Linked DNA regions of Homo sapiens. The protein of the gene in region 4 purifies or fractionates together with the protein of the main gene of each other region. This does not show direct contact. Each region holds a gene or a part of one and is shown on either strand. Other genes may lie near its edges.

Evidence for each region.
Region 1: the proteins of TRMT61A (region 4) and ARHGEF11 purify together in Homo sapiens (affinity purification with mass spectrometry; 3 studies listed by BioGRID and IntAct, with this or other methods). This does not show direct contact.
Region 2: the proteins of TRMT61A (region 4) and PBLD purify together in Homo sapiens (affinity purification with mass spectrometry; 3 studies listed by BioGRID and IntAct, with this or other methods). This does not show direct contact.
Region 3: the proteins of TRMT61A (region 4) and ARHGEF12 purify together in Homo sapiens (affinity purification with mass spectrometry; 3 studies listed by BioGRID and IntAct, with this or other methods). This does not show direct contact.

Annotation. Positions count from the first base shown.
Region 1 is NC_000001.11:157,035,743-157,042,742, forward strand, and holds part of ARHGEF11 (rho guanine nucleotide exchange factor 11), read right to left. Parts: intron 1-7,000. UniProt on the Homo sapiens protein: May play a role in the regulation of RhoA GTPase by guanine nucleotide-binding alpha-12 (GNA12) and alpha-13 (GNA13). Acts as guanine nucleotide exchange factor (GEF) for RhoA GTPase and may act as GTPase-activating protein (GAP) for GNA12 and GNA13.
Region 2 is NC_000010.11:68,322,929-68,329,928, reverse strand, and holds part of PBLD (phenazine biosynthesis-like domain-containing protein), read left to right. Parts: intron 1-7,000.
Region 3 is NC_000011.10:120,472,368-120,479,429, forward strand, and holds part of ARHGEF12 (rho guanine nucleotide exchange factor 12), read left to right. Parts: intron 1-682; coding exon 683-760; intron 761-2,192; coding exon 2,193-2,268; intron 2,269-2,972; coding exon 2,973-3,140; intron 3,141-4,293; coding exon 4,294-4,381; intron 4,382-4,851; coding exon 4,852-4,938; intron 4,939-5,079; coding exon 5,080-5,159; intron 5,160-5,788; coding exon 5,789-6,022; intron 6,023-7,062. UniProt on the Homo sapiens protein: May play a role in the regulation of RhoA GTPase by guanine nucleotide-binding alpha-12 (GNA12) and alpha-13 (GNA13). Acts as guanine nucleotide exchange factor (GEF) for RhoA GTPase and may act as GTPase-activating protein (GAP) for GNA12 and GNA13.
Region 4 is NC_000014.9:103,532,134-103,537,573, forward strand, and holds the end of TRMT61A (tRNA (adenine(58)-N(1))-methyltransferase catalytic subunit TRMT61A), read left to right. Parts: intron 1-448; coding exon 449-715; intron 716-2,416; coding exon 2,417-2,688; 3' UTR 2,689-4,940; downstream 4,941-5,440. UniProt on the Homo sapiens protein: Catalytic subunit of tRNA (adenine-N(1)-)-methyltransferase, which catalyzes the formation of N(1)-methyladenine at position 58 (m1A58) in initiator methionyl-tRNA.

The DNA.
Region 1 (7,000 bases), on a different chromosome or scaffold from region 4:
TGGGTGGCTATGTGGGAATATATATATATACAGGAATATATATATATAGGAATATATATACAGGAATATATATATAGGAATATATATATGGAATATATATATGTATATATTTAGGAATATATATAGGAATATATATAGGAATATATATAGGAATATATATATATGAATCTATATATAGGAATATATATATATGAATCTATATATAGGAATATATATATATGAATCTATATATAGGAATATATATATATGAATCTATATATAGGAATATATATATGAATCTATATATAGGAATATATATATGAATCTATATAGGAATATATATATGAATCTATATGAATATATATATGAAAATACATATATGAATATATATGAATATATATATGAAAATATATATATGAATATATGAATACATATATGAATATATATATGAATACATATATGAATACATATATGAATATATATACATATATATATATGGCTGATTAATCAGGATCCATCAAATACATGCTAATCTCCTCAAACCATGACCCAACTTCCTAAGGGATCTCCCAGAACTGACTACTCACTTTTTTTTGTTTGTTTTTTGTTTGTTTTTTTGAGGCAGAGTCTTGCTCTGTCACCCAGGCTGGAGTGCAGGGGTGCGATCTCAGCTCCCTGCAACCTCTGTCTCCCGGGTTCAAGTGATTCTCCTGCTTCAGCCTCCCAAGTAGCTGGGACTACAGGCGTGCACCAACACATCAGGCTAATTTTTGTATCTTTAGTAGAGACGGGGTTTCACCATGTTGGCCAGGCTGGTCTCAAACGCCTCACCTCAGGTAATCCACCCACCTCGGCCTCCCAAAGTGCTGGGATTACAGGCGTGAGCCACCACGCCCAGCCTCCTGCTTCTCTTAAAAAGCTGTATTGAAGAGCTCTAAAACTATTTGGTAGAAATGGCCTAACCTAAGGGTCTAAGGAAGGTTAAGTATCCACTGTATTCAGTAAATTGCTAGGTATCAATGGCAGACAAAATGACTTCTACTGAAGATCCTAGTCTATCAATAGCACTACCCTTCTCCTAGTCCACCAGTCTCATAAATTTGGGAATAAAATTTGATTCAGGGCAGTGCACGGTGGCTTACACCTGTAATCCCAGCACTGTGGGAGGTGGAGGCGGGCGGATCACCTGAGATCAGGAGTTTGAGACTAGCCAGGCCAACATGGTGAAACCCCGTCTCTACTAAAAAATATAAAAACTTAGCCAGGCATGGGATCAGGCACCTGTAATCCCAGCTACTCAGGAGGCTGAGGCATGAGAATTGCTTGAACCTGGGAGGCAGGGGTTGCAGTGAGCCAAGATCGTGCCATGGCACTGTAGCCTGCGTAACAAGAGCAAAACTCTGTCTCAAAATAAATAAATAAATAAATAAATTTGATTCAGTCTTAAAATACTGGTTAATTCTGCTACCAAAACGTCTTGGGAATCCTGCCACTCCTCTTTGTCCCCACCATAACCGTTCTGATTCAGAAGCTCGTTATCTTTTCCTAAGATTGCTACAAAAACTCCTAGGCTTCCTAACCCCAAGCTCTCTTCTGCTCTATATATTAATATCAGAATTCTCTCTTTAAACACTATGTTTATCACCATATAATACATAAACCTTCCCCGGCTCCCTTTCTACTACCACATAAAGTCTGAATCCCTTCATTCTCCCTACCCTACCCATCTTATCAATCTAATTTCTCTCTGCTCTACAATAATCTTAACACTTGGAGACCACACCATGTTGGTGCCACCCCAGACAGAACCTTGCTCGTGTTGCTCCTCTAGTCTGAAATGGCCTCTTCTCTTTCTTCGACCTGAATAATTCCTAACTACTCTGCCTTTGACTATTCTTATTAGCACCAACCTTGCACTCTTCTCTAAATGTACCTTTTGGTGTACATAACGATTCAGCAATTATGTACCATCTTTTTATTTTGTGTTGCTTTGTTAATAACATTTCCCAACAAGCATTTAGGCTTGAGGCCATGCACGGTGGCTCATGCCTGTAATCCCAGCACTTTGGGAGGCTGAAGTGGGCGGTTTACTTGAGGTCAGGAGTTCGAGACCAGTCTGGCCAACATGGTGAAACCCCCGTCTCTACTAAAAATACAAAAAGTATACCGGGTGTGGTGGCAGGTGTCTGTAATCCCAACTACTTGGGAGGCTGAGGCAGAGAATCGCTTGAACCCAGGAGGTGGAGGTTGCAGTGAGCCGAGATCACGCCACTGCACTCCAGCCTGGGTGACAGAGCAAGACTGTCTCAAAAAAAAAAAAAAAAAAAAAAAAAAGAATGTAAGCTCTATGTTCTCCTGTACTATCTCTCAGAACACTGAGAACTGCACTGAGCCATCTGATAAATATTTCAAGTCCAACCAACCGTCAAGCGCCACAGATCACAGGTCATCACCAGGAGGGCTGCTAGATTGGTTCCCTACATGATTTGAGGCCAGGCTGTGACTGATGACTACAGATCCCATCACACCACTTTGTAGTGGCTGCTCCCAAATACTGGAAAGGAGCAGGGTCTGGAAAGCAAGACTCTGAAATTACTTCACTCTAACTTTTCAAAGCCCCTTTCTCACATATTCATGTCTTAGTTTGCTATTCTTTAAAATGAGGAGGAAAATCTTAAGGAAGTCAACAATGGTAATAGAGGGATACTAGTGACTTTAAGGCCTACGCTGAAATCACAATAGAAAGACAATAAAATGGTTTTAAATTGTGGCAGAGGAAGTTTCGTATCCAAAGGGATTTCTAATTGTTGAACTAATGGAACCATCCTCCAGAGATCACTGAAAATGGGAGAGGCCTTCAACCTGTCTTTACTAGGTTAAGAGACACCCTATTTGGAGTCCAGAGTAAAGGGCAAGAGGATCCCTTGAAGTCCTGCCAGATTTTTGTGATTTTTTCCTGAAATCTGTCCAATTGTTTTAGTACAATAAATTGGGGTATTCTTCCAGACCTTAAGAACACCTTCCAGGCCTGGCGTGGTGGCTTGCACCCATAATCCTGGGACTTTGGGAGGCCGAGGTGGGCAGATTGCTTGAGTTCAGGAGTTTGAGACCACTCTGGGCAACATGGTGAACCTCATATCTACAAAAATTAGCCAGGTGTGGTGGCACATGCCTGTAATGCCAGCTACTCAGGAGGCTGAAGTGGGAGGACCACCTGAGCCTGGGGAGGTCAAGGCTGCAGTGAGCCATGATCATGCCACTGCACTCCAGCCTGGGCGACAGAGTGAGACCCTGTCCCAAAAAACAAAAAACAAAACCACCTTCCAAATCCTATTCCAATTCTATTAGGGGCCATGGATTTCTCAGTTCCTCCCCATGTTTCCATGTCCCTGTACTTCCATCTTCTCTCCCATTTGATCAGGCAGCTTTGTTCTCTGTTCTTTTCAAGCTTTCATTTTCACTGATTTTCAGGAAAGCCAGACAATGATTTCTGAAAAACCATTTGGCCCACTGAAAGGACACAAAGCATTCTGGTTTCAGAGGCTGAAAGAACGTAATAGCTAAAAGGAATCAAATCTTAGAGGCTGGCTAGCCTAATTCCCTCATTTTTCCAAATAAGCAAACTGAGGTCGAGGGCAGGTAAGCACCTTTGCAAGGTCATTCACCCAGCTGCTAACAAAGCTGGCTCCATCATCCACGTCTACTAACTCAGATGTTGTGTTCTTTCCTCAGAACTCCAAACCTCCTTTCACAAAAGATCTAACATGACTTTTTATGAAGTTATACTTTTTTCTTTTTGAGACCAGGATCAGCAACTTCTTCAGTACGGTTTACCCCATGGGGCAAAGGAGTGATCTTGCATGCCACTAGCAGGTGTATGCTTGGGTCTTTTATCAATATAGTGATTGACAAAAGAAGGAACACCACAATCCACAGCAAAAAGAGTTTCCAAGCCACGTGATATATCTTTGAGTTAAGCTTAAAAAATAATAAACCAATAAAAATGAATTTTTAAAGGCAATGCTACTATGAAGAGGTGAAACAGATTCAGTCAATATAGATTAAAATAACTCCTCTTACGTTTATAGAACTCAACAGTTAACAAAGCCTTTTCACAAACATCAGATTATCAGAACATTAAAGCAGCAAGAAACACTATACAAACTAGAGTTTCTAAACTCCATTCCACAGAGGCTGTGAGCTTCCAGAACTCCTTTACCTTTATACTAACTAGGAGATTAGCTATGTGCTGTTCACAAAATCTTTTTATTTTTGATGAACTCGTATTGTCATTTAATTTTTCTTATTTCTTGTCTATTAAAAAAGCTAAACAAATACATTAATAAAAGGGCACTCTTTCAGAAATGTTTTTGAGTATCTGAAGTTAAGCTTAGTCTGCTCCTTCTCATAATGGTGATTAATTGCCAAATGTTTCAGCTGCAAATCCATTGTGTCTCTCATCTCACACCCCTAGATGGGAACAAGGGTACATTTTGGAAAAGACTCAGCATTTCCGGGACTTATCATACGTAGCTCTGGATCCCTGTCTCCATTCTGGGAGGCCAACCTTCTAATCTAGGTAGAAACTCAGCTAAATGTCTGGGGACTTCTTGGTCCCAGGAGTCAATAAAGACCAGAAGCCAAGGTGCGAAGAGACCCCTGACAGAGAACAGTTGCTGGGTCTAGATTTATTTTGAATTAGGAAAGTCATACGCTTTTAAGACAAGGAATGGCTGGAGATCACAGAACAAATCCTTTCTATCCCCATCACTAACAGACATTTAAGGTGAGCCAAGGTAGATGAAGTCTCTCTCATTCATCAGAGTTCCTGGGAAGGAGATTCAGTAACCCTTCTCTTCTCACATTCTTCTAGTACCCTATCTATTGGAAAAATACTCCTTCCTCCTGACCCCATGCACTTCTACAACAATAAAGCCAGTTCACTCTGCTTAAATTCTTCAAAATGATATAAAGATTTCAGTCACCTTGTTTTGTTTTGGGATACTTAGCTCAGAAAGTTGTGCACGAAGCTAAATCAAATCTGTGAATTTACCATCTATAATTTATATAGAGTTTACAGTTTAGAAAACAATTTGAAATACATTATCTCGTTTGATTTGCTCCTTTCAATAGGCTTGTGAGAGAGATGAAACAAACATTATAATCCTCAAATGACACACCATATAAAAATGTTTGAGAACTGGATTGTACTTTATAGAAATGAACTACTACTGCTTTACATGAGGAAGCCAGAGGAGGCATGTGACTTCCCCAAGGTCACATAGTTAAGGGGAAAGCCAGGACTCAAACCACAAACTCTTGGCTTAAAGTACTTTGGTTTGATCCTCACATGAACTAACTTTGGGCAGAGGAAAGATGTTTCATGGATGCAAACCCCTAACCCTCCTGTCCATCTCAAAAACATTTGCCATGGGGGAACCAGGCTAACAGATATAGATGGCTTAGCAAAACTCATGACCACTCCTGTAAAAATAATTTAGTATCATTATCTCTGTTTGCAATAGCAAACACATTTTTAGAAACTCTTGAAAGGAATATATATTAATGGGCAGTAAGTTGCCCATGGACAAAAACTGAAAGGGACATGAACAGCTACACTTTAGCCCATCTTTCAGTAACAACTGATTAACACTGAAAGATAAAGAATAGTTGCAAATACTTTATGCTTTCTATGGACCCAGGAGTCACTCTTGAACAGGGTGCTACAGGAGATGAAAGACTGCCAAGTAAATATTCCAAAATTTTCTTACTCTCAGCTACAATCTCTTTCCAAATACATAGTCCTTTATTATGTCATTTATTTTCTAGAAAATACACATTACCTAGGAAACCTTCTCTAATTGACCTTATTTGACTACATTTGAAATTAACACGTGAATGTTGAAACAACCCGCAATGAAATAATTTGTACTTGCTGATCTGTTCATTCACTCTAACATTCATTTGTCAAACATTTCTTGAGTACTCACCTCATGCAAGACACTAAGCTAGGCACACAGGATTTCATACAGGCAAACCAAACTGTCCCTGCTTGTGAGGGGCTTACAGTCTGGTGTTGCTTTATGTGGTCTTCAAGAGTCTTACGTGTTTCCCAGTCCCCCAGTTGCATGCTCTCTCTGTGAGCAAGTACTGTACACCTTAATTTTCTAAAACTCTCCTATAGCACCTTACACTAGGCTCTCTACACAGCAAACTGATAAACTGAAAGAATACTAGACTCCATAATCCGCAGCGTATTATTCCTTTCAGTGTGATTTAAATCTGTAAATTATTTAAAATCCATAGAGTCTTGAGGCTGATGTTGCCCAAAGTTACAATTGAATAAGCCTACAGTTAAGGGAGTAAGATTCAGTGCAGCTAGCTGGGGATGTCTGAAGGGGATCTGAGTCCTACCACTCTTAATGGGGAAGAGAATCAGGCAGGGTGGAGGTGAGGAATACCCTTACCCTGCAAAGCTGCACTATCTTACAAGAGAAAATAGTGCTTTAACTATAGGACTTACAGGTATGAGCCCCAAGACTGAACCCCCAAGGTAGGAGCCCCAAGACAGAAAAGTAGAAGGGAAGACCTTGACTGCTGACGGGCACTTTACCCTACTACCAAAGAGAAAGGAGAAAACGGTGCCCCACACATTCTACAGGACCAGTACAGAAGCCTAGTTAGACATGATGGGGCAATGAAAGAGCTACAGATTCAGACTCAGAAGACCTGTGTTTGAGTCTTTGAGTCCAGATTCTGCCACTAGCCAGGCAAGATGGCACTGGGCAAGCCAGGTAGCCTCTCTGAGCCTCAGTTTCCCCTTCTGTGAAACATGAATAATAACCTCTGATGCTTCTGTCTACCTCACACAGAACCACTGTGAGATTCAAATGAGATATGTTCTACGAAAGCACTTAGGAAACTGTAATGTGCTGGGCAAATCCTGAGATTTTTATCTATGAGGATATCCAAACCCCCAGGAGTGTCTCACATCAACCCAGGAAGGCTCACCGCCTCCTCC
Region 2 (7,000 bases), on a different chromosome or scaffold from region 4:
CAAGGTCACACAGTTGAGTGGTAGAGCTAGAATTGGAGCCCATAGGGTTTTACCCAAGGGCCAGGGTCTTAAAACACTATGAACCTTCGTGAGGTTACAAATAACTTATCTATAACTTAAGGAAACAGACATCATTTTTGGAAAATTGAGGTTATGTTGCCTAATTAACACTGGAGTTACCATTTCAGGAGACCTGTGGTTACTAGCTTATTGGCTGGAGACTTTTTGAACAGGCCTGAAACTTTATAGTCCCATTATCACTGACACTGTGAGTCCCAAGACACTGTGAGTCCCAACCCCTCTCCCTCCTTTTAAAAAAAAAATTGCTGTATTAATAAGACTCTAAGCTCCCACAATTCTGATGGAGTTCTTCCCTTGGTCCTCCTGGGTTCAAGTTACATGGCTACTTCTATCCTTTCAGTCTTTCAACCGATTTGGCAGATGGAATTCTGTAATCTCCTTCACTCCTTGCTTGAATTCAAACAATTTGTTTTACTGCCTAATTGAATTTGGCATTCCTTCCGCATATTTTGTGTGGTTATGGGCCACAATCTTAAAATCATTCTAATGACATGACTGACTTTTCACTACCAAACTGCTGCTTGCTTGCTTGCTTGCTTGCCATAATTTCTTTGGGTCAGGCACTCTGCCAGTGTGCATACTCAGGAAGGACTTGAAATTGGTTTACACATTCCTTTTGCCTTTTTATTATTACAGTAGGAAGTTTTGAGTTAAAAAATACACTATATAGGCTGGGTATGGTGGCTCACGCCTGTAATCCCAGCGTTTTGGGAGGCCGAGGCAGGTGGATCACGTGAGGTCAGGAGTTTGAGACCAACCTGGCCAACATAGGGAAACTCTGTCTCTGCTAAAACTATAAAAATTAGCTGGGCGTGGTGGCACATGCCTGTAATCTCAGTCACTTGGGAGGCTGAGGCACAAGAATTGCTTGAACCTGGTGGGGCAGAGGTTGCAGTGAGCCGAGATCGTGCCACTGCACTCCAGCCTGGGTGACAGAACGAGACTCCGTCTCAAAACAAACAAACAAACAAACAAAACCGCTACATAGTCATAAATGTACATTTTATTTGGCTTCCTATTTTACTACCTTTCTTAAAAAAAAAAAAAGTCTTGTCAACGATTCTCATTTGCAAGTTGAATCCTGTAAATAAGGCTTGGTGAGACTGGCTCACCACTGCTCCAGTGATCCCTACAGAATTGTTTCCAGACCTATCTGTGTGGAATTGTTTCCATAGAGATGGTTAAAACCAAGGACTGCCAGCTGCTTTTGGGACTTTTTTTTCTCTTTGTCTTCCTTTTCATCATTCCAGTGCTTTCCTATTAGCATAGAGATCAGAGGGACCCTGGAGAGGATCTTGTTAGAGACCATAATGAGAGAAAAGATGAAAAAGGAGAAGGAAATAGAAGTACCCATGTGACCCAGAGGAAAACAAGACAACAAACACGTGATCATGTATTACACCATCAGGATGAAGAGGAGAGGAAAATTCCGTGCAGAGCCTGAGAGAAAAAAAGAAATTGAAAGAGATTACACTCTTCGGGGGGAGGGAAGGCACATTAACGAAAAATTGGTTAAGATATTTGTTCACATATCCCCAGTGGCATTGTGAAGTACCATAAAAACTGGATTATCATAATCTTTTGCCTATGTAAAAAGCAAATAATCTAAAAAATGTAACAAAATCCACTAAATTTCATCTAATTAAGGTAGTTAATGCCTTTTAAACACTAAATTTGTGTAAGACTGTGAAATGCTTATTCTTTGGTTTATATCCTATGTATCTTGTCTTTAGAAAGCACTAATCTCCTTTATTATGGTTCAACATTGTTTCTCAAGACAAGACTGAATTACACAGTTTATATTCTTGATACTTTTTTGTTTCTCTAAGTCACCTAAGTGTTCTTTGTGAATCTGGCAACCAAAAGGCCTGTTCAATCTTAATAATTATACTAAGTAAACAAATGAAAACTCAAAAGGAAGAAAGCACCTAAACATATTCTTTCTCTAATTTTTGAAAATAATTAAAATAATTGAACATTCTTTTTGTTCCAGTGAATTGCTGTGAAGGCTAGGGAAAGCAGCTTAAAAAGATAGCTACTTAAATAATTTAAATGAAATTATTGTACTGCTTTTAGTGTGTCATAAGCACATTAATAACTTTGAAAATACAGCATTGATAATACAGTAATAGACCATTTCCCCCAACGTGATTTTTTTTTTTTTTTTTTTTTTTGAGGTGGAGTCTTGCTTTGTCGCCCAGGCTGGAGTGCAGTGGCATGATCTCTGTTCCCTGCAACCTCTGGCTCCTGGGTTCAAGCGATTCTCCTGCCTCAGCCTCCTGAGTGGGATTACAGGCATGCATGACCACGCCCAGCTAATTTTTGTATTTTTAGTAGAGACGGGGTTTCACCATGTTGATCAGGCTGGTCTTGAACTCCTGACCTCATGATCCACCTGCCTCAGCCTTCCAAAATGCTGGGATTACAGGCGTGAGCCACAGCGCCCAGCCCCACCCAGATTTTAAGCTTCTTGGTGGTAGATAAAAATATAGATCTCATTATTCATATACCTATGTTTTTAAGTCTGCAAAAAATAACGATGGTCACACTGGGGGCAGGGACACTTTAAGTCATTCATTTTCACTGCAGTCTTGCAAAGTTACTGTTTCATGGACCAAGAAATGAAAAAGCCAGTAGATAAAGTAGTGTTTCAAAGTTTACCAAAAAAGTAAATGGCAAAACTTAGACTTGACTTCATAATCAGGGAGTCCCAGTTCTGACACCAGCTACCAGTGAATTGATTCTGAACCAGTTAACTTTTCTGAACCCCAGTTTTTTTTTTATTGTTGTTGTTGTTGTTTTGTAGTGGAGTCTCGCTCTGTCGCCAGACTGGAGTGCAGTGGCGCGATCTCAGCTCACTGCAACCCTTGACTCCCTGGTTCAAGCAATTCTCTTGCCTCAGCCTCCCGAGTAGCTGGAATTACAGGCATGTGCCACCACACCCAGCTAATTTTTGTGTTTTTGGTAGAGATGGGGTTTCACCATGTTGGCCAGGATGGTCTCAATCTCCTGGTCTCATGATCCACTGGCCTCGGCCTCCCAAAGTGCTGAGATTACAGGCGTGAGCCACTGTGCATGGCCACCTCAGTTTCTTAATCTCTAAAATGGTTTGTTAGGTTATTATATAGGGGGTGGAGATTAGTAATTGAAATAATGTTAATTCTAGTTCCATGCTGTTTTATTTATTTGTGTTTGTCCTAGCATTGTTAATGAATCTGGTTCATTCCTGCTAAACTCATTTAATAGCAGTGAATTTAATAGAATTTTTAAAGTAAGTACAGTATCCTAAGAGCTACATTGGGAGCCAGGACATTATTCCAGTGAAATCTGTAACTCATATGAACTATTCTGTGGGCAGAATAAATAATATTTCCGATGTAATGTGCTGCTGATTTTCCAATATAGGCAGATGCAGCTGTTATTAATAAATGGAAATTGATTTGAGAGCATTACTGAATTCCTAGTAGGTCAGTATATGTTTCCATCCATCCATAAAAAATACAAGTACAGCTTGGCACAGTGGCTCATGCCTGTAATCCCAGCACTCTAGTAGGCCGAAGCTGGCGGATCACTTGAGATCAGGAGTTCAAGATCAGCCTGGGCAACATGGTGAGACCACGTCTCTACTAAAAATACAAAAATAATTAACCGGGCATGATACTGCATGCCTGTAATCCCAGCTACTCAGGAGGCGGAGGTTGCAATGAGCCGAAATTGCGCCACTGTGCTCCAACCTCGGCAACAGAGTAAGACTCCATCTCAAAAAACAAAAACAAAACAAAACAGAAAAATCAAGTACATTCTATAATGTTGGATGAGCTAAAAAAAAAATGCACGTACATAAAGTGAACCTGTCCCTGACTTTCAAGAGCATACAGATACATTCCATTACATAGATAAATTACATTAAACTGTAGCAAGTGACAAAATAGGGTAAGCACAGAGTGTTTGGGGAGCACAGAATCTGGCCATTCACACAGTCTAGGGCTTCAGAGAAAGCTTTCTGAAGGAGACAACTCATGAGTTAAGTGTTGGAGGATAAGTAAAATTTAGTGGGGCAATGAAAAATAGGAAAAGCATTTACAGTTGAGGACGCAGTAAGATCCAAGGCATGGATGTACAAAATAACGGCAGAAGTGGAAACTCTAAGCAGGTGAAACATTGTAAAATAAGGAAGTAGGTAGGAACCAGATCTTGGAGAAGTTTGTGTGCTACCCTATGGAGCTTGGCTTTTAAGATTGATGATCAATGTAGTGCTTTTTGGGTTTTTTTGTATTGTTTTTGAGATGCAGTCTCACTGTGTTTCCCAGGCTTGAGGGCAGTGGCGTGATCTCAGCTCATTGCAATCTTTGCCTCCCAGGTTCAGGTGATTCTCCTGCCTTAGCCTCCTGAGTAGCTGGGACTACAGGCATACACCACCACGCCTGGCTAATTTTTGTATTTTTAGGTAGACACGGGGTTTCACCATGTTGGCCAGGCTGGTCTCAAACTCCTCACCTCAAGTGATCCACCTCTCTTGGCCACACAAAGTGCTGGGATTACAGGCATGAGCCGCCATTCCCGGCCAATGTAGTGGGTTTTTGTTTTGTTTTGTTGTTTTCCCTGAGACGGAGTCTTGTTTTGTCACCCAGTCTGGAGTGCAGTGGCACAGTCTCAGCTCACTGCAACTTCCGCCTCCCGGGTTCAAGCAATTCTCCTGCCTCAGCCTCCCGAGTCGCTGGGATTACAGGTGCCTGCCACCGCACCTGGCTACTTTTTGTATTTTCAGTAGAAACAGGGTTTCACCATGTTGGCCAGGCTGGTCTTGAACTCCTGACCTCGTGATCTGCCTGTCTCGGCCTCCCAAAGTTCTGGGATTACAGGTGTGAGCAACTGCACCTAGCCCAGATGTAGTGTTTTAATTAGATAGTTCTGATTAAAGTGTGGAGAGTTGGCTGGGCATGATGGCTCACGCCTGTAATCCCAGCACTTTGGGAGGCCAAGGCATGTGGATCATTTGAGGTCAGGAGTTCAAGACCAGCCTGGCCAACATGGTGAGACCCTGTCTGTACTAAAAATACAAAAATTAGCCGGGCAATAGTGGCACATGCCTGTAATCTCAGCTACTTGGGAGGCTGAGGCAGGAGAATCGTTTGAGCCTGTGAGGCAGAGGTTGTGGTGAGCTGAGATTGTGCCACTGCACTCCAGTCTGGGCGAGTGACACCCTGTCTCTAAATAAATAAATAAATAAATAAATAAATAAAGTGTGGAGGGTAGATATTGGGAGGGTAAGAAGAGAGAAGACTAGGAGAAGGACCAGTAGAGATGATGAATACTTAAACTAGAGCAATGGTATTAGGGATAGATACAGGAGGCTCTCTTTAAGAAATATTTGGCTGGGCACAGTGGCTCACACCTGTAATCTCAGCACTTTGGGAGGCCAAGGTGGGCAGATCATGAGGTCAAGAGATCGAGACCATCCTGGCCAACATGGTGAAACCTCATCTCTACAAAAAATACAAAAATTAGCTGGGCATGGTGGCGCGCACCTGTAGTCCCAGCTACTTGAGAGGCTGAGGCAGGAGAATCGCTTGAACCCAGGAGGCAGAGGTTGCAGTGAGCCCAGATCGTGCCACTGCACTCCAGCCTGGCAACAGAGCGAGGCATGGTGGCGCACACCTGTGGTCCCAGCTCTATCTCAAAAAAAAAAAAGAAAATTAGGAGCTATTTATCAGCAGGGTTTAGTGCTTGAGTAGAAAGGCTGTGCATGGGTGAGTGAAAAGAAGTCAAGGATGAATTATTTTTGGCTTAGGGTTGGATGCTGAGAATTTTAACTGACATAGGAAATACAGGAATATCGGGTGTGTTGATTTTGAGATGCCATGTACTGTCCGAGTGAATGTGTCTAGTAGGAAATTAATCTGGATAGGAATGTAGATTTGGCATTCATTGACATATATTTTGCTTTTATACTTCAAAATAAGTTTTTTGGGATGGCCTCAGGCTAAGTAAATTTGCTGTGGAATCTGTTGTAAAAACTAGAATGAGAATTTATTATTTACAGTGAAGAATATAACTATCAAACAAATGGAATGCAAATTATCCCAGTGTTTTTGTGGGGGATACTTCTGAATATTCTACATAAAAGGAAGTATACTCTATTAGTTATTATTGCTGTGTAACAAATTGCTCCAAAACTTAACAGCTTAAAACAACAAACTTTTATTATTTCATAATTTCTGTGGATCAGAAATCTTGGGGCAGCTTAGCTGGATGCTTCTAGCCCAGGATCTCTTTTTCTTCTTTTTTGAGATGGAATCTCACTCTGTCCCTCAGGCTGGAGTGCAGTGGTGTGCTCAGCTCACTGCAACCTCTGCCTCATGGGTTCAAGCTGTTCTCCAGCCTCAGCCTCCTGAGTAGCTGGGATTACAGGTATGCTCCACGAAGCCTGGCTAATTTTTGTATTTTTAGTAGAGACGGGTTTTCCCAATGTTGGCCCACCTGGTCTTGAACCCCTGACTTCATGTGATCCACCCACTTTGGCCTCCCAAAGTGCTGGGATTACAGGCGTGAGCCACCATGCCCAGCCTAGGGTCTCTTATAAGGGTATAATTAAAATGTCAGCTGGAGCTTCAGTTATCTCAAGGGTCAACTAGGGTAGGATCTGCTTAAAAGCTCACTCCCATGGCTATTGGCAGGCCTCAGATCATTAAAAAAAATAAAATTTTAGATTTTTGAATAGTTGTAGATTTATAGAAAAGTTGCAAAGATATTACATAGAATTCCTATATATGGCTCACTCAGTTTCCTCTGTTAACATCTTATATTTGGCTGGCACAGTGGCTCACACCTGTAATCCCAGCACTTTGGGAGGCCAAAGAAGGAGGATTGCTTGAGACCAGGAGTTTGAGACCAGACTGAGCAACATAGTGAGATCTCA
Region 3 (7,062 bases), on a different chromosome or scaffold from region 4:
TGATTGCTTCTTTAGGGAAAATTGAGGGGGGTGGGGCAATAGGACAAGGTTAGAGGGAGACTTTTTATTTTTTGCCTTATATAGCCATCTGAATTTTGTACTGTGTGCATGATTTACATATTCAGAAAATAAATATAAGCTAATAAGAGACCAATGACTTTGAAAAGAAGATTGAGAAAGAAAAGCCAAAGAGGCAGGAGGAAAACTAGGAGAGTATATTATCACCAAAGCCACGGGAAGAGAGTGAGTTTTCAGTCCTGTCTAGCATTGCAAAGAGCTCAGTAAAATGGAGATTTTTTTTTTTTGAGATGGAGTCTTGCTGTGTCGCCCAGGCTGGAGTGCAGTGGCGTGATCTCGGCTCACTGCAAGCTCCGCCTCCCAGGTTTGCACCATTCCCCTGCCTCAGCCTCCCAAGTAGCTGGGACCACAGGCGCCCGCCACCATGCCCGGCTAATTTTTTTTTATTTTTAGTAGAGACGGGGTTTCACTGTGTTAGCCAGGATGGTCTTGATCTCCTAACCTCGTGATCCACCTGCCTCAGCCTCCCAAAGTGCTGAGATTACAGGTGTGAGCCACCACGCCTGGCCAAAATGGAGATTTTAAATGCCAAGTTTGATTCAGAAATAGAGAGGTCATTAATGACCAAAGCACTAACCTTGGTTCCACCCTGCCTAATTTTCAGCGCCTAGAAGATTATCAGCGTCGCCTTGATACCTCCAGCCTGAAGTTGTCAGAGTACCCAAATGTTGAAGAGCTCAGGGTGAGAGATGGTCTAATCATAATTTAAAAAATAAAATAAAATTTGCTAAAGACCTGGCAGGTAATTAACATCTCAGTGGGAATATACGTCACCTGAAGGAGTTCTTGTATCGTAGATTATCTGTATTTATGATTTTTTTTGCTGCCTTTTAAATGCTTGATCTGTATGAAATTAGTTTTTCATTAGAGGAATATCTTGCATAAAACTGTAATATTACATGACAGCAATTGGCAGGAGACTAAGGGACACTAATTATTATAAAATTTAATTTTATTGTGTTCTGTAGTTTGTTTCAGACAGGGTCTTGCTCTGTTGCCCAGGCTGGAATGCAGTGGTGCAGTCTTGGCTCACTGAAGCCTTGGCCTCCTGGACTCAGGCAGTCCACCCACCTCAGCCTCCCTAGCAGCTAGGACTATAGGTATATGCCACCATACCCAGCTAATTCTGTGTTTTGTAAAGACAAGGTCTCGCTGTGTTGTCAGGTTGGTCCAGATTTCCTGGGCTCAAGTGCTCCTTTCTCAGCCTCCCACAGTGCAGGGATTACAGGCATGAGCCACTATGCCCAGCCTGTGTTCTGTAGTTTAAATAAGGGTAGGACTGTTTGGTAACTTTCCAGATCATTTAATAACACAAGATAGCATACTATTTTCTCATGAGGCTCTTCAGAAGCATAAAAGTTGGAACCATTACAGGAACGATAGTAAAATGTTTACTAATTGCCACTTCTAGTATGTGGGCTTATGTGTTAACTTTTTCGGATTTTAAGTGTTTTTGTACCATTTCACTAGGTGGTGGTTTTGGCAGATTTATTTGGTGGCTGTTAAAATAGACTTTTATGTCATATATTAATACTTCGTCAACAAGCACGTAAATGTGCTTATTCCCCTTAGCTTCCAAAGAATGAGAGTTTTCTAGAGCTGCTAATACTAAAAGATGATTCTCTTACTAATAAGTTGTTAATATTTAGACCAAGTCTGAGTAGTACCTGGACTTTTCATGAGTACTATTTCTTAGAACTTTCTTTGAAATTAGAGCCTTGGAACTCAGAAGCCACTTTCTTATAGACAAGCATATGTACCATGCTCATCCAGTTATTCATAGGAAAATTAAAGGATACGTTGAGAATCTAGTGACTGAATGTTTGTAACTTGATCTTCATAATCTGTTATCATCTGTTTAGAGTGAGGTTTGAAGATAGTACTCCTGAATGTTCTTCTGCAAGATACCTTTTCCTTTTTAGAAAATTGTATGCAGATTACTTTAATATGGCTTTTGTGCCATTTTCAAGAACTGACAAATAGCAATAATGATAGTTGAATGTAAATGGTGTATTTTATATTAAGAATTTCTTTAAAAGAGACTGTATTATATAGATAATCATGTTACTGAGTGCTTGGAAATTATTTGTGCATGATTTTCTTTATTTTGCCAGAATTTGGATTTAACAAAAAGGAAGATGATTCATGAAGGGCCATTGGTTTGGAAGGTGAATAGAGATAAAACTATTGGTAGGTCTGATATTGTCTTTTAGTTTTGGGGAGAGTGGCAAAAGGGAAGGAATAGGAAAGTTTCCTATGACAAAGGGAAGAGGAGAGAACCATTCTCTCAGCAGTTTGCAGTGCTACCTCGTGTTATTTGTACATTTGTAGATCTGCTTGTGTTATTTCATTATATGTAAGATGTGTTAAATATTCATTTAGGAATGTAGTGGAGAACTGATTTAGTCCTATTTCCATCATTCTTATAGTCTAGTGAGTCTTTGTATGCTTTGTAAGCTTTCTTTAGACCAGTACATCTTAAACTGTCTGTGATGAGGAACCGTTTTTGTTTTTTCAGAAACAAGGTCTTTCTATGTTGCCCAGGCTGGAGCACAGTGGCTAGTCACAGATGCAGTCATGGTGCACTGCTGCCTCGAACTCCTGGGCTTAAGGGATCCTCCTGCCTTAGCCTCCCTAGTAGCCGGGACTATAGGCGCACAGCACCACACCCAGCTTGTTGTTTTTTATTTCCTATTGGTCACAGACTGACACTTCAGTGAAATAAAATAAAAATGAATTACTGAAAATGAAATTTTAAAAGATAATATACAAGTCAATTTTTAAAATTTTGTAGCTTTAACAGAAATAGAATTCCTCTGTTGAATCATTATAAAGTTAATCAAACGCGTCTCCATTTCTGTACTTACCATTTTTTTCTGCACTTTTATTTCTAGATTTATACACGTTGCTGCTGGAAGACATTCTTGTATTGTTACAAAAGCAGGATGATAGACTGGTTTTAAGGTGTCATAGTAAGATTCTGGCATCTACAGCTGATAGCAAACACACGTTTAGCCCTGTCATTAAGTTGAGTACAGTGTTGGTTCGACAAGTGGCAACAGGCAAGTATGTCCACTGAAGGATACTAATTTCCAGATTCATTGTGAAGTTGCATAAGATACTCGGTGCTGTCTCAATAACACAAGTGGCATAGAGTCTTGCTATTTTTATATTCTTAAGCAAATTACATGAAATTTACTGCTTAGAAAGAGACCTAAGAGTTTATACCCCAAAGTTATTAGGGTGTCTCGATTCTGTGAACAGTTTTCTGCATTTGAAAATTTTTATGCTATTACTTTGGTTCTTTATGTTCAAATCATTGATAGATCCCAATGAAAAGCCTTTCATTTAGGGTGGTATGTTTTTTGATTTGGTGAGAAAAAAATCAAAAACCAAAGAGACGGATGTAGTGTTGATTAAAAATCAAATTTGACTGGCAAGTTATATTTTAACTCTATTAACAACGGGGTCCCTTTTAAAACTTGTTAGTTTCATGGTGGCAAAATAAATTTGTGACCTCTTTTCTCCACTACTCACTGAATATTATTAACTAACAACTTAGCAAAAGTGCAGTTCAAAATAAATGCAAAAGAGTAATAGCATTTAATCTGGTAATTTGGATTTATTTATTTTTTTTCTTTTGAGACGAGGGTCCCACCCTGTCACCCAGGCTGGAGTGCAGTGGTACAACCTTGGCACACTGCAACCTCCACATCCCAGGCTCAAGCAATTCTTCAACCTCAGCCTCCTGAGTAGCTGGGACTACAGGCATGCACCACCATGACCTGGCTAATTTTTTTGTTTTATGTAGAGGCAGGGTTTCGCCATGCTGCCCAGGCTGGTCTCGAACTCCTGAGCTCCAAGCGGTCCACCTGCCTCGGCCTCCTAAAGTACTGGGATTACAGGTGTGAGCCACCGTGCCCGGCCAGTAATTTGGATTTTTGACATGCTTTTAGCAAAGTTTCTAGTAAATTATTGTGGAATTAGTGCTAATTCGTATAATCTTTGTTTTATTGAAGTACAATAAATATAGTACAATAAATACGTTAATATGGTAAGTTGCACAAATTTTAAGTGTACATCTTGATGAATTTTAAAGTAAATATATGTAACCTTTATCTAGTTTAAGGGGCAGACTATTTCAAGACCCTAAAAACATCCCTCATGGCCTCCCCAGGTCATAGTATTAGAGTAATCTTGTATTGTTTTTTCCAGATAACAAAGCTTTATTCGTCATTTCCATGTCAGACAATGGCGCTCAGATTTATGAACTGGTGGCACAGACAGTTTCTGAAAAGACTGTGTATGTATCAGATATGGCTACCTTGCTATAGCTAATATTTTCATTATCCCAAGCGTAATATTCCATAAACTTAACTTTGTTTTTATAATGTATGGAAACCAAGCACTTCCTCTGTACTCTTTTAGAGACGTTCTACTATGAACTTGTTCTTTTTTAGGTTGATGCCTTTTATTTTGATTCTATTCTGAAAGTTTATTTCCTAAAGAAAAAATTGTGCAAAATGTCAAGTGAAGTTTTTTTAATGTGTCCATAGATTTCTCTTAAGGTATAGTTTTGGACTCTCGCCTTAATAGTGTGTTGCCAAAATAAAGATATTCTCTGGCAGAGTGGGTTTTGTTGTTGTTGTTGTTGTTGTTGTTGTTGTTGTTGTTGGTTGATTTGGTTTTTGTTTAGTTTTGCTTTCTGAGTATATTTAAAGGATATTTCTTTTTTCTTTTTTGTATTTTGGATTTCTTTCCAACTTTCTGAAGCTGGCAGGACCTAATCTGTCGGATGGCTGCATCAGTGAAGGAGCAATCCACAAAGCCAATTCCATTACCACAGTCAACACCTGGCGAGTGAGTGTTCCTTTGCATTGTAGTAGGACTTATTTTATGTTTTGGGTTGGAAAAGACTAGGATAATTATTATGTTTTGTTGCGATGATGTTTAGATACCTCAGGAAGGTAAAAGTTTTTTTTTTTTTTTTTTTCTCTACAGAGGAGATAATGATGAAGAAGATCCTTCAAAATTAAAAGAGGAGCAGCATGGCATTTCAGTCACTGGTTTGCAGAGTCCAGGTACACTCTTCTGAAGAGTTCAATGGAGAATGTGCTCTATTATCTGTTAAAATGCTGGCCGGATGTGGTGGCTCATGCCTGTAATCCCAGTGCTTTGGGAGGTCGAGATAGGCGTATCACCTGAGGCCAGGAGTTAGAGGCCAACCTGACCAACATGACAAAACCCTGTCTCTACTAAAAAATACAAAAATTAGCCGGGCATGGTGGTAGGTGCCTGTAATCCCAGCTACTTGGGAGGCTGAGGCAGGGAGAATTGCTTGAACCCAGGAGGCGGAGGTTACGGTGAGCCGAGATCGTGCCATTGCACTCCAGCCTGGGCAACAAGACCGAAACACCAAAAAAAAAAAAGAAAAAAAGAAAAAAAAGAAAATAAAATAAAATGCAAAGAAACTTTAATACTGTTTGGTTTATGCAGGTTCCAGCATCAGAGATTCAGTTTAACAAACTTTGCCTTTGAGCCTTCTGTGTGTCAGTATAACACTGTTCTAAGTGATGTGTATTTTTCTTAACAGATGATCTCTGTAGTTTATGGATTGTTTTTTTTTTTTCTGATTCTTCCCTGAATGCTTCATGTTAAAAGTTAAAAGCTTTGTTTAGATATAGTCTACCTTTTCTATTCCATTGGACAGACAGAGATTTGGGATTAGAATCTACCTTAATATCGTCAAAACCTCAGTCTCATTCACTGAGTACCTCTGGGAAATCAGAGGTACGTGATCTGTTTGTGGCTGAGAGACAGTTTGCAAAGGAACAACATACAGATGGGACACTAAAGGAAGTTGGAGAAGATTATCAAATCGCAATCCCAGATTCACACCTGCCTGTCTCAGAAGAACGGTGGGCATTGGATGCACTAAGAAATTGTAAGTTTTATTCATAACTTATTACAGATACTTACTAAGTATGACACTCATGTGCCATCCCTAAAGTATGTGGATTTATCAAACTCCACTTATTCTTCTAGTTCTATTGTGGAGATTATAGTATTCTCTACAGTGGCCCATGCCACAGGCACACACACACATGCCACTCTGTTAGCTCCCCACCCCCCTGCCTGGTTCAGAATCACTGTTAAAATGGGAGGATAGCATATCTCTCAGTTGTATTGAGGTGGGAAAAAGGCTGAGAACAATTTCTTTGGCTGGGGAGAACCACTTGAAATTTTTAAACCAGCGTATGACTAAAGGTATGAAAAAAGATTAATCTGGCTGAAAGCGGTGGAAGGATTTGAATGGAAAGAGGTATGGAATGGTGTACTTACTAAATAAGCTATTATAATAGTCTGGCCTGAGACTAAAAGAGTTTGGACTAGAATGTTATCAGAAGGAATAAGAAGAAACTGAGAAGTCATCAAATGCTTAAAATAATTGACTTCTTTGAATGTGAGGTCAAAGGAAAGGGAATATTTAGAGATAATTTCATTAATCTAGTCAGAAATAAGAGTCAGAAAAGGACTACCACTGCTTCCCCCACCTCCTTCCATTGTACTTTCTTTTTTCTTTCTTTTGATTTGGTAGAATTATAGGCTCAGTTTTAAAGCATGTCAAGATTAAGATAATGAATGACAAAACACTAAAAAGTGAGTAACTAGCAGGAAGTTAGAGTTTTAGGAGTGAAACTTTAGAGAGAGGTTAGGAAGAGATAGAGATGTGAGCATCAGAGCCATGAGACTTCCTGGCATCTCTCAGGAAGTGATTGTAGAGCAGAAGGACAGAGGATGAGAGACCTAAGTGGAACCTGTTGCCTAAAGAAACATGACAGACATTAAGCTAGTGATGAGAGCAGAGAATTGGTTATTTAAAACCTACAATATTTTTTATACCTTCTCCTGAATTAACAGTCTTAATAATTTCTGATGGTTGGAATAACATTGTCCCAATAACTCTATCATTGTCTGGGTGAC
Region 4 (5,440 bases):
GGCAGGGTGGGCCACTGTTGACGGGGATTGAGGAAGTGATGGGCCATGCATGGAATAAGACAGGGCTGAGTGATGGGATGGCCTCCCTGTCCCCCTTGCACAGATTTCCCCGGAGGCTCCAGGCAGCTGGGCTGCTCTCATTCCCTATACCTGCGCTAGGCAGGATAGGGCAGGGTTGCCACTGGCCTCGCCTGTGCCCACAACAGACAGCACGGCATACACAGCCTGTCAACCCCAGCTCACCCCTAGACAGGGTGCCCAACCCAGGGCTAGCCTGGGGCTTTAGGCAGCCAGGACCATACAGCCCTGGAATGACGCCCACCTGTAGCTTGGGGTCCTCCCAAGCCCTGTGTGGGTCTCCAGGGTGAGGTGGGGGTTGTTTCCTGGGAGGCTGTGGGTCCCGAGCAGTCCCAACTGATGCCTTGCCCATCCCTTCTTGTCCTGCCAGGCACCGGCAGTGGCTCTGTGTCCCACGCCATCATCCGCACCATTGCACCCACGGGTCACCTGCACACGGTGGAGTTCCACCAGCAGCGGGCAGAGAAGGCCCGGGAGGAGTTCCAGGAGCACCGTGTGGGCCGCTGGGTGACTGTGCGCACCCAGGACGTGTGCCGCAGTGGCTTTGGCGTGAGCCACGTGGCCGACGCCGTCTTCCTGGACATCCCATCACCCTGGGAGGCCGTGGGCCACGCCTGGGACGCCCTCAAGGTCGAAGGTGCATCCGGGGTTCCGGGAGAGGTACAGCCTGGGTGGGGGTGGGGCAAGGGTGCAGGACTGAGCTCCTGGGATCTCAGAGGGGTCCAGAGACCAAGCCACACCATGGCAGTGGCCAGGCCAGGGCCCCACTTTGGCCTGAGGTGAGGAGTGGGTCAGGCTGGCCAGGGGAGGCAGAGCTGGGGAGGATGGTCCCTGGCTGGGCCCTGCTCCTGGTCTCTGGCCTCTCCCAACCCCCTGATGGAGGAAGGTGGCAGCGCCACCCAAGTGCAGGGCAGGCCCGGCCGGAGGAGTCTGGAGTCCCCTCCCTGCTGTTTCCCAAAACCTCTCCTCCCCCAGGCTCTGGAGCCCAGGGAGCTGGCCCCTTTTAGGGAAGATGCTGGGTGCGGAGGCGGGGCAGCCCTGGGGAAGGTCGGGCCTCAAGCCAGGGAGGTGGCTGGGAGGCCCAGGGTTTTTCCCTTTTCTGGAGAAGGAGCAGCTCAGGCAGCAGGGGCCCCTTCCTTCTTCCCAGCTGAGAGTTGTATTCTGAGAGGGTTGAAGGGTGGAGGTGCTGGGCGCCCCACCCCACCTCAAAGATGAGCCGAGGCCTGGTGCGAACAGCAAGGCTGTGGCCGGGGGTCCCCTGCTGGCTCCAGCCCAGCCCTGACTCCTGGGTCCTGGTCTCTGCTGAGGTGGGTAGCTGTGGGGATCTCCACACCCTGCCTCCTAGGCTTCCTGCTCTGGGGACACTTCTGGGCCTGGACCATAGTCCCAGGGAGGCTGAACCCGGCAGAGCCTCCCCTGGGGCCCCCCTGCTGCCTTTGTGACTCCTTCCTCCAGCGTGGCTCGGGGAACCCGCGCCTGCCTCTGGGACCTGTCCCTTTCCCTGCGAGCTCCCCCTTCTGGGTCCAAAGGCTCCTGGCTCATTCATGGGCCCGGCATCTCCTGCCGGCCACGGGAGCCCGCTGGGGAGGATGCGGCATGCTCAGCCTCTGTGCCCTGTCTAGGCTGTTGTCACACAGCAGGTGCCTCCTCTAACCCCGAACCTCCTGGCGGCCCCGTGTTAGGGTACAGCTGAGGAGACCAAACCTCAGGGACGTTTGAGGACACTTGCCTGGGCCACATACCTCTACCCGGCCCTGGCTTCCCCAGGTCCTCCCTGCCAGGACAGGGACCCGGGCTGGGTTCTCATTCACTGCAGGCCAGGCCAAGTGAAGCCCGTGGCTGCCCTGGTGGGAGGCGGCAGGGAGGGGCTGTCATGCTCGGGCTCTGCTTCGAGTAGGCGCCTCCTGTTCCCGGGAGCAGCGACAGCCTCTAATTTCCTGTGACAGCAGCGGCCCCCGCACCGCCCCACGCTGCCGTGCTGTCAGAGCTGCTCCGGGCCCAGAGCTCCAGCAGCCCTGTGGAAGGCAGGAGAGCAGTGCCCGCTGTGGGCCAAGTGAGACAATGGCAGCGCGGGCTTGACCCGGTGCCTGGCACATGGGAGGGCCTGGCATGGCTAAGCTGGGTGACATGAACAGCGGCGCCAGGCCCCATGGGGGGCTGTCAGTTGAGGGCCAGGCCCCTCTGCCCTGCAGTCCCAGCTCTTGGAGAGCTTGCAGTCTGTGTTGGGGCTGTCTTAGGCTGGCCTCAGACCCTAGGGTGGGAGTCCAGGGATGCTAGGGCCAGACGGGCCAGGCTCTGCCACCCCTGCCCTCTGACCCTCGGGTCCTGTTTCCCACAGGCGGGCGCTTCTGCTCCTTCTCACCGTGCATCGAGCAGGTGCAACGCACATGCCAGGCGCTGGCAGCGCGCGGCTTCTCAGAGCTGAGCACCCTGGAGGTGCTGCCACAGGTCTACAACGTGCGCACTGTCAGCCTGCCACCGCCCGACCTGGGCACAGGCACAGATGGCCCTGCCGGCTCCGACACCAGCCCCTTCCGCAGCGGCACGCCCATGAAGGAGGCCGTGGGCCACACCGGCTACCTGACCTTCGCCACCAAGACCCCAGGCTAGGGGGCCGCCTCCCAGGGCACCAGGGAGCTGGGAGCACTGAAGGGCTGGGCAGGGAGGCCAGAGGCACCTTATATGGTCAGCGATGCCTGCCAGACACAGACGGTGGGGTGGGGCTTGGGGGCCTCCTGGGTGGCCAGAGTGGGACAGCAGGAAGGGCGGCTGTGATGGAGGAGCAGTGCTGGGGCTGGGCCTCAGCCATTCCTGTCCAGCCCTGTGGCCCATCCCAGCTGCTGTTTGTTGCCAATATGAAGTATCCACTGCCACAGGCTCCCCTGGGTGTTGAAGCCAAAGGGTGCAGGTGGGGGAGTCTGACCCCCTCCCAGGTGGGCCTAAGCAGGAAGGGGGTGGAGGAGGGAGGGGGGCATTGACCCTGAGACCACGCTGCGTCTGACCCCTGGGCCCCCACGGCCCTGGCTGCCCCACGGGGCCTGAGACCATCTCGTGCTTCTCCAGTCCCCGGGCCGAGGCTCCAGCCTTGGCCAGAAGCTGGGGTGAGCTGACCCAGAATCCCTGCCCTGCTCTCCCCAGCGCTAGGAGACCAGGCCAGCCCAGGAACCAGGGAGGTGACCCTGCTCTCTGGCCTCCTGGCTGATGTCACAGCACTGAGCTCAGCCCAGGCCTTCGTCCACTCATGTCCAAGAGGCGGGGCATCCCCCACCCAGCCAGAGCCCCTGACATGGGCTGCACTCGCTGAGGCCAGGCAGCGCTGCGGAGAGGAGCGGCAGAGTGGGTTGTCTGCCGCAGGCAACCAGGCAAGTGTGTCGGGGCTGGGGTGTGAATGCCAGCCTGTGAGTCCCGGAACTATGTGGGTACCCCTACCCCTCACAGAAGCCAAGGGCATGGAGGAGGTCCCTCCACAGTGACAACGGTGTGGGGTAGGGGAGGTGCATTCAGGACACCACCCAGGGACAGTGCCTATGTGATCACCTCTTAAAGGCTAAGCTTAGGGGCATTTCCCAAAGTGGGGACAGAGGGCAGGACGCCCAGGCTGGGGGCTCTCCTCGCCCGCCCTGGTGTCTGACAGCCTCAAGGAAGGAGCAGTGCCTGTGTCAGCCATGGGGCCCTTGGAGCTGCCGCTGGTGCCTAGGGGGCCTGGGTTTCTGCCCAGGCAGCCAGTGGCTGTTGGGAGCCTCTGTTTCCCCTGTGCTGGGGGCCTTGAGTGCTATGCTAGCAGGGGCCTGGCCCCAAGTGTGAGTGATGAGCAATAAACGTACCGTCCCCCTCTGTTCTGAGTGATCCCTAGCAGCCAAGGCCACCCCCAGCTGCTGTCTAGGCCAGCCCTACCTGCGCTCTGCCCCTGGTCCCTGCTCCTCCCTGTCCTGGTTTGGCATGATAGGCGCTCCAGTCTCCAGGACAAAGGGGCAAATGTGTGGCCACCCCCATCTGGCTGCAGAAAAGGCCACTCCTTCCTGGGGTTGGGGTGGTCCAGGAGTGCTGGGCCTTCTTCCACAGTCCTGGGCTGGAATTCAGTGTGGCTGCCTGGGTTACTTGTATGCGCCCCTGAAGGAAGGGTCCACTCCAGGCCGCCTGGTCCCTGCGAAGTGTCACACTGTGGGTCACCGGGGGCTGTGGCTAATGTGGTCCGGGAGGCCTGTGTCCCTGAGAGTTGCTCAGCCCTGCTCCGAGGGCTTGTCCTCTCCTTCCAGGACCCAGCTTCCCTTCTAACCTTGTTACTCACCTGGGGCACAGAGGAGGGGCCCCCAGTCAGGTTCAACATGGAAGTGGGTGACCCTAATGCCAGGAGCTTTGGGGTCAGGCTGTCCCTGGGGTGTCATGAACTGGGTGACGCACACCCCTGAGATCTCAGTTCCCCCAAGCCTGCCCTGCCCCTCCTGGCCACAGCAAAGGCCTGCATGGTGTCTGATGGGTGGACACCGGGAGGTGTTTCTTTGAGGCGCAGCTCCATGGTTTATAGGACACATAGGCCTCAGGCACCGTAGGGTCCAGGTTGTGCCCATTTTCCAGCCGGGGCTGGTTGCCCTGGTGGCAGCCCTGGGTGAGTCACCAGGGTCCGCACATGGAGAGCGGGAGGTCCCAGCCCACCCTTAGTTGTCACATGGGACAGAGTTGCTGTGTCAATCCCCTCGGCCCTGCTGCTCTGCCCTGCACACAGGCCCCCATGATGACCTTGAGCCTCCAGGCATCCACCCCCACCGTATGGCCCTCTAGACCCAGCTGGGCCTCACCCCACTCCCTCAGCTTGGATCCTCACGTGGCCTGGAGCCAGCATTAAACTCCTGTATGTCCTTCAAGACCCCTTCAAATGTCCTTTTCTCAGCATGCTTCCCCAGACATCTAATGCCCAGGCGGGAGAGTCCTGCACACCATGTCCCGAAGGAGTCCCCATAGCAGAGGAGCAGAAGGCAAGCAGCGCCCCAGTTCTGTGATGGGGAGCCTGACTTTCAGAGGTAGAGCTGGGCCCATGGCCGTGAGTGACCGATGAGCAGGCCCGGATGGTCAGCGCGAGTCAGCAGCACGGGCTCATCATGGGGCACGGATTCACCAGAAACTCCCTGCCTGGCCCAGTGTGTACTCGCCTGTGGCCCTCAGATTTTCCCTGGCAATTCCTCCCCGCTCACCCTGCTGTCCTGCACTGAGACAGTGGCACATGACTCCCAGCTGCCCAAGCCCTGGAAGGTCCCAGACCCTGGCTCTGACTCAGCTGCTTGGAGGGTCCTAGTCCTGGGAACTGCCCTAGAGCCGAGATTAGAGTACCCCTCCCTCAGGAAGCCCCGGGGTGTCAGCTGCTCCT